2 linked regions of the Homo sapiens genome follow. The protein of the gene in region 2 interacts with the protein of the main gene of each other region in a biochemical or structural test. Each region holds a gene or a part of one and is shown on either strand. Other genes may lie near its edges.

Evidence for each region. The genes of interacting proteins can lie anywhere in the genome.
Region 1: the proteins of HIF1A (region 2) and KPNA6 form a complex in vitro, tested with the Homo sapiens proteins (2 studies listed by BioGRID).

What each region holds. Positions count from the first base shown.
Region 1 is NC_000001.11:32,163,406-32,167,057, reverse strand, and holds part of KPNA6 (importin subunit alpha-7), read right to left. Parts: intron 954-3,652; coding exon 828-953; intron 1-827. UniProt on the Homo sapiens protein: Functions in nuclear protein import as an adapter protein for nuclear receptor KPNB1. Binds specifically and directly to substrates containing either a simple or bipartite NLS motif.
Region 2 is NC_000014.9:61,736,926-61,740,577, forward strand, and holds part of HIF1A (hypoxia-inducible factor 1-alpha), read left to right. Parts: coding exon 1-184; intron 185-1,161; coding exon 1,162-1,448; intron 1,449-3,579; coding exon 3,580-3,652.

The DNA of each region.
Region 1 (3,652 bases), on a different chromosome or scaffold from region 2:
TTTCTTTTGTTCTTCCTATATAGGTGACAGGCTACTACAGAAGAACCCAGTTTTGGTTACACAGCTTCTTTGACCAATAGTACACACTGACTCCAATTTATTTATTTATTTATTTATTTTCTGAGACAGTCTTGCTCTGTCACCCAGGCTGGAGTGCAGTGGCGCGATCTCGGCTCACTGCAAGCTCCACCTACCAGGTTCACGCCATTCTCCTGCCTCAGCCTCCCGACTAGCTGTGACTACAGGCGCCTGCCACCACGCCCGGCTAATTTTTCTTTTTTTTTGTATTTTTAGAAGAGACATGGTTTCACCACGTTAGCCAGGATGGTCTTGATCTCCTGACCTTGTGATCCGCCCACCTCAGCCTCCCAAAGTGCTGGGATTACAAGCATGAGCCACCATGCCCAGCCCCTCTTTTTTTTTTTTTTTTTTTGAGACGGAGTCTCGCTCTGTTGCCCAGGCTGGAGTGCAGTGGCGTGATCTCAGCTCACTGCAACCTTTGCCTCTCGGGTTCAAGCAATTCTCCTGCCTCAGCCTCCCGAATAGCTGAGATTACAGGCGTCCGCCACCACACCCATCTAATTTTTGTATTTTTAGTACAGATGGGGTTTCACCATGTTGGCCAGGATGGTCTCAAACTCCTGACCTCATGATCTGCCCACCTCGGCCTCCCAAAGTGCTGGGACTACAGGCGTGAGCCACCGTGCCTGGCCAATTGACTCCTATTTTTAAAGGGAAACAAATTCTTTCTTCTGAAAGCAAATATTCCAACAACCTCCCAAGTTCCTATGACTTCCCATGCCCCTTGACTTCCCTGCCTGTTTTACCTGTATTTGAGCCCTGTTGCCAGCAGTAATATTTGAAATAGTCCAGCAAGCTTCCTTCCGGATTGACTCCTTGGGACTGCTCAACAAGTGGAGAAGGCAAGGTAGGGCTGAACAGTTAAGAATGACCTAGAACACCAAAAGCACAGGAAACAAAAGAAAAATTAAACTGTTTTTAATTTTTTTTATGTTTTTTTGTTGTTGTTGTTGTTGTTGTTGTTTTTGTTTTTTTTTTTGAGACAGAGTCTCGCTCTGACGCCCAGGCTGGAGTGCAATGGCACAATCTCGGCTCACTGCAACCTCCGCCTCCCAGGTTCAAGTGATTCTCCAGCCTCAGCCTCCCAAGACGCTTGGATTACAGACGCCTACCACCACGCCCGGAAAATTTTTCTATTTTTAGTAGAGATGGGGTTTCATCATGTTGGCCAGGCTGGTCTCATGCTCCTGACCTCAGGTGATCTGCCTGCCTCGGCCTCCCAAAGTGTTGGGATTACAGGTGTGAGCCACTGTGCCCGGCTTCATTTTTTTTCTTTAAATAGGGTCTCACTTTGTTGCCTAGGCTGGAGTGCAGTGGCATGATCATGGCTTACTGCAGCCTTGACCTCCCAGTCTCAAGCAATCCTTCTACTTCAGCCTCCTGAGTAGCTGGGGACTCCTGAGTAGCAGGGTGCCACCGCACTCTGCTAATTAAAAAACATTTTTTTTTTTTGTAGAGACAGGGTCTTCCCATGTTGCAGGGCTGGTCTCAAACTTCTGGGCTCAAGTGATCCTCCTGCCTCAGCCTCCCAAAGTGCTGGAATTACAGGCATGAGCCACTGCACCTGGCCCAGGTAAACTGGACTTAATCAAAATGAAAAACTGTTGTGCATCAAGACATTGGAGTAAGCTGGGCACAGTGGTATGCACCTGCAGTCCCAGCTACTCAGGAGGCTGAGGCAGTAGGATCACCTCAGCACAGGAGTTCAAGGCCAGCTGGGGCAACATAGTGAGACCCTCTAAAAAAAATTAAAAAAGAAAAGAAAGTTGGTCTGGGTGAGGTGGCTTCATGCCTGTAATCCCAGCACTTTGAGAAGCCAAGGTGGGAGGATTGCTTAAGCCCAGTAGTTCAAGAGTAGCCTGGGCAACATGGTAAAACCCTGTCTCTCCAAAAAAAAACAAATTCAAAAAATTAGCTAGGCATGATGGTGCATGCCTGTAGTCCCAGCTACTTGGGAGGCTGAGGTGGAAGGACTGCTTTGAGCTCAGGAGGCAGAGGTTGCAGTGAGCCGAGATGGCATCATTGCACTCTAGCCTGGGTGACAAAGACAGACTCTGTCTCAATTTTAAAAAATTAAATAAGTTAAAAGTTTTTTTTTTAAAGACACCAAAGTTAAAAGATAAAACCACAGAACAAGAGAAAATATTTGCAAAACATGTGTCTGATAAGAGATTAATATCCAGAACATATGAAGAACTCCTAAAATTGAACAACCAGAAAACTCAACAACCCAATTAAAACATGAGCAAAAGACTTGAATAGACATGTGTCCAAAAAAAAAAAAAAAATACACAGATGGCCAATAAGCATATGAAAAGATGCTCAACATTACCAATCATTAGAAAAATGCAAATCAAAACCACAATGAAATATCACTTCACACCCATTAGGGTGGGTATTATCAAAAAAAAAACAAAAAACAAAAAACGGAAAATAACAACTGTTGGCAAGGCTGTGGGGAAACTGGAACATGCTGCATTGTTGGTGGGAATGTAAGATGGCATAGCAGCTGTGCAGAACAGTATGGTGTCCCCTCAAAAAAATTAGGCATAAAATTAGAACATGATCCAGCAATTCCACTCTGGGTATATACCGGGGACTTGAACAAATATTTGTACACCAATGTTCATAGCAGCATTATTCACAATAGCCAAAAGGTGGAAACAACCCAAATGTCTATTGATGGATAAATAAAATATGGTATATACATACAGTGGAATATCATTCAGCCTTTCAAAGGAGTTCTGATGCATGCTACAACATGAACGAATTTTAAAGATACTAGGCTAAGTGAAATAAACCAGACGAGAAAGAATAAACACTGTATGATTCCACTTACATGAGGTACTTAGAGCACTCAAACTCACAGATACAGAAAATAGAATGGTGGTTACTAGGCACTAGGGGAAGGGAGAATGGGGAGTTACTGTTTAATGTGTACGGTTTCAGTTTGAGATGATAAAAAATTTCTGTAGCTGGCTAGTGGCAATAACGGAAAAACAATGTGAATGTACTTTATGCCAATGGTTAAAATGGTAAATTTTATGTTGTATTTTAAAGTACATGCATATACATATACAAAGTAACCCAGAAAATGAGCATGTGGGTTTGAGTGTTTGAGTGACACTACTCACCTGTTAAGAAACCTGTCCAGAATCCCACAGAATTATGCTCGCTACTCAAAACCCAAAGAATACCCAAATCTCTAGCCTTTGAGCAGGGGAACTTTGTTTACTATGCCTTCACCAGAAGGGTTATTTACAAAAGATTATTCCAAGGTCCATGATATCCATGAGACCTTAAAGATCTAGGAAGCAGGGGTGGAGTTCCATAGCTTTCAGTATCTCAAAGGGACCATGACTCAAACTTAACTAACTCACAATGTCCCAGGTGGTAAGTCCAGTTATTCCACTTAGTTTTCCTTCACCCATTAGACGATGATTTGTTCCCAATTTATGTAAGAAAAGAAGGAACCAAGTTTCCCATGACTGTTTAGAGAATAACAGAGCTGGAACTTTTCACTCAAGCCCACACTTACTTCCTTAGACCATAGTGCCTCCCATCAGGACCA
Region 2 (3,652 bases):
CAAACAGAATGTGTCCTTAAACCGGTTGAATCTTCAGATATGAAAATGACTCAGCTATTCACCAAAGTTGAATCAGAAGATACAAGTAGCCTCTTTGACAAACTTAAGAAGGAACCTGATGCTTTAACTTTGCTGGCCCCAGCCGCTGGAGACACAATCATATCTTTAGATTTTGGCAGCAACGGTGAGTAGTTATTTTTGTTAATCCCCTAAATTGTGTCTGTTGCTACAAGCCCCATTTCAACTAAACATTACTTTACGGTTTTTGTTGGTAATCATTTGGACATTACAAGCTAATATATGTTTATAGTTTTCTTAAATGTATTTGCTTAAATATTTTTGCCCCCGTAATTTCTTACCATTCTTGCTTTTTTATACTGTTGGAAATTGTGCTTCAAAGTGTCCTTAAGGTATTTCTTCTTCCCACATAAATTTTTCCTGGCTACTCTATTTCTGTATCCTGCTGTCAGATTTTCTCCACAGTTTAGCAGAGTTATATGGAAGTAGGCATTGTTGCATTAAAGGATAAAAAAGTAGTCATACTATAACATCAAGCATTGAAGATGAAAACTGCAATTTTAAAGTAGAGAACATTTTAATGTATAAAAAGGTTGGTATTGCCTTTTGTCTTTTATGCCATAGAGATTAAGACGCGGTATCAATAGTGGATTGTAAAGGTAACTCAGACTTATGGTTATACTATACTATTGTATGTAAACTTTCTGATGAAGGAAAATTTGGTGACATTTTGTTGTTTGATGAATTAGACAAACCTTTTGTGAAAAAGAACATAAATTTTTTATATGTGAAAATCCTTGTGGCCGGGCGCAGTGGCTCACGCCTGTAATCCCAGCACTTTGGGAGGCCGAGGCGGGTGGATCACTTGAGGTTAGGAGTTCGAGACCAGCCTGGCCACCATGGTGAAACCCCGTCTCTACCAAAAATACAAAAGTTAGCTGGGCGTGGTGGTGTGCGCCTGTAATCCCAGCTACTTGGGAGGCTGAGGCAGGGGAATTGCTTGAACCTGGGAGGCAGAGGTTGCAGTGAGCCAAGATTGCGCCATTGCACTCCAGCCTGGGCAACAGAGCAAGACTCTGTCTTGGGTAAAAAAAAAAAAAAATCCTTCTATACTTTAGATTGACTCATATTTTTTCCCCACAGACACAGAAACTGATGACCAGCAACTTGAGGAAGTACCATTATATAATGATGTAATGCTCCCCTCACCCAACGAAAAATTACAGAATATAAATTTGGCAATGTCTCCATTACCCACCGCTGAAACGCCAAAGCCACTTCGAAGTAGTGCTGACCCTGCACTCAATCAAGAAGTTGCATTAAAATTAGAACCAAATCCAGAGTCACTGGAACTTTCTTTTACCATGCCCCAGATTCAGGATCAGACACCTAGTCCTTCCGATGGAAGCACTAGACAAAGTTCACCTGAGGTAGGTGTCATGATATAATCAGAAAGGGACAACTTTCAGATTTTAACATTCAAGAATGTATTTATAAGTTTGATTCAAACACTTATTTGAACCACAAATTACATTTGTGTGTGTGTTTGAATTTTAGCACTTTAAAATTATTGCAAGAGCTACTGCCTAACCTAGACCTGAGCACATGTTTTAGGCTCAAAGATAGTCAGGAACATGGGAAGAAACTAGCTTAATATAAACCAAAAGGTGAAACGTACATTGTTTCTCTATTATTTATATCAGTAGGACAAAAACATCTTGAATTTGGACATTTAAAGAGAATAGTACTAAGTGTGCTCAAGGTAGCTACAGCCTATACCTGTTACCCCTTTTAGTTTGTTTTATTGTGTTTTGTTTTGTTTTGAGAAAGAGTCTCACTATCACCCAGGCTGGAGTGCAGTGGTGCAATCACAGCCTCAACCTCCCAGGCTCAAATGATTCTCCCACCTCAGCCTCCCAAGTAGCTGGGACTACAGGCCTGCATCACCATGCCTGGCTAATTTTTTAACCTTTTTTTGTGTGTGTGTGTGGAGTTGGGGTTCTCACTATGTTGCTCAGGCTGGTTTTAAACTCCTGGGCTCAAGCGATCCTCCTGCCTTGGCCTCCCAAAGTACTAGGATTACAGGCGTGAGCTACCATGCCTGGCCCATTACCCCTTTGAGTTGGAGAACTGTCTGGTAGCAATAGACTTACGAGGGTTTAAATGGGAAAGGACCTTATAAATTCTTTGCCCAATTTAGTCTAATTTCCATCACTATTTTGAAATTTTGGGTAAGTATAATATGAAAATAACAAGTGTTACATAAAATAAATACTTAGTAACTGGTCTTTTTTATTCTGGATCTGTCTTGATATTAATTGTCCTATGAACACAAAAATAATCTTTAAAGGCTAGGCTGGCCAAGACTTAGAGATATCACACAGGGCTCTATTTCTAAATCTAGAATGATTCCATTTTAGGGCTTCCTACATCTAAAAATATGCTCAGGAGTAGGGCAACTTAGATCTGAACATTATAACTTGATAAATGAGGCATAAATAAGCTTTAATAAGTGGTAAATAATTCTACATTAGGTATTTGTTGAATAAAACTGACAAGCTAAGAGTAGGGGATTTGACATCTCACAGCCTTGTGTTGAATGAATATATATCCTATGCTCTGGTTGCTTAATTTACCCAGAAAAAAAAATGTTTGATTCATCTTGGTTTTTATCTAACAAAAGTAAATCTAACAAAAACGTTAGAATGAGGAAAGCAAAATTTCTTGTTTAGAATACACAGCTATAGTTTTTTGTTAAACTTCTTGCCCAGAACTCTTAAAATAGTAATAATGTACATTCGTTCAGGTATATGCAGGTAAAATAACTTAGGTTTCTACTCCCACCCCCGACAGTAACAGTGAGATTTTTAGGTAGCTCAGTCACCACAGGAGTGTGCCTTCTCAGTTCAAAGGTAAATTCCAGTGAATGTAGCATCTAGTTAATTGGTCAATTAGGTACCATTGTGGGATGTGAATTACCAAATAGGTTTTATTCTTTAGAATAAGGTGTTTCTTTTCATCTCAATTTTGTAAATGATGTTATATTACATAGTCAGAAATATATATATTGGCAAAATTAGTTACCAGTATAAGCTTCAAAATGTCACTATTTTCACAAATTTTTTTTTTTTTTTTTTTTTTTGACATGGAGTCTCACTCTGTCGCCAGGCTGGAGTGCAGTGGCATGATCTTGGCTCACTGCAACCTCTGCCTCCCAGGTTCAAGTGATTCTCCTGCCTCAGCCTCCTGAGTAGCTGGGATTACAGGCGTTTGCCACCATGCCTAGCTAATTTTTGTATTTTTAGTAGAGACGAGGTTTCACCATGTTGGCCAGGATGGTCTCGATCTCTTGACCTCATTATCCCTCCACCTTGGCTTCCCAAAGTGCTGGGATTACAGGCGTGAGCCACTGAGCCCGGCCTAGTTAAATAAAATTTGATAAACACGATGGACTTGGTTGTGTGTTTTCTGGTTTTTCTGAGATCTAGTTTGAAAATTCTGACAACTAGCAAAGTATATGGAAGCTTCTTCAGGAAATAGTAAACATATTTCTTTTTACAGCCTAATAGTCCCAGTGAATATTGTTTTTATGTGGATAGTGATATGGTCAATGAATTCAAGTTGGAATTGGTAG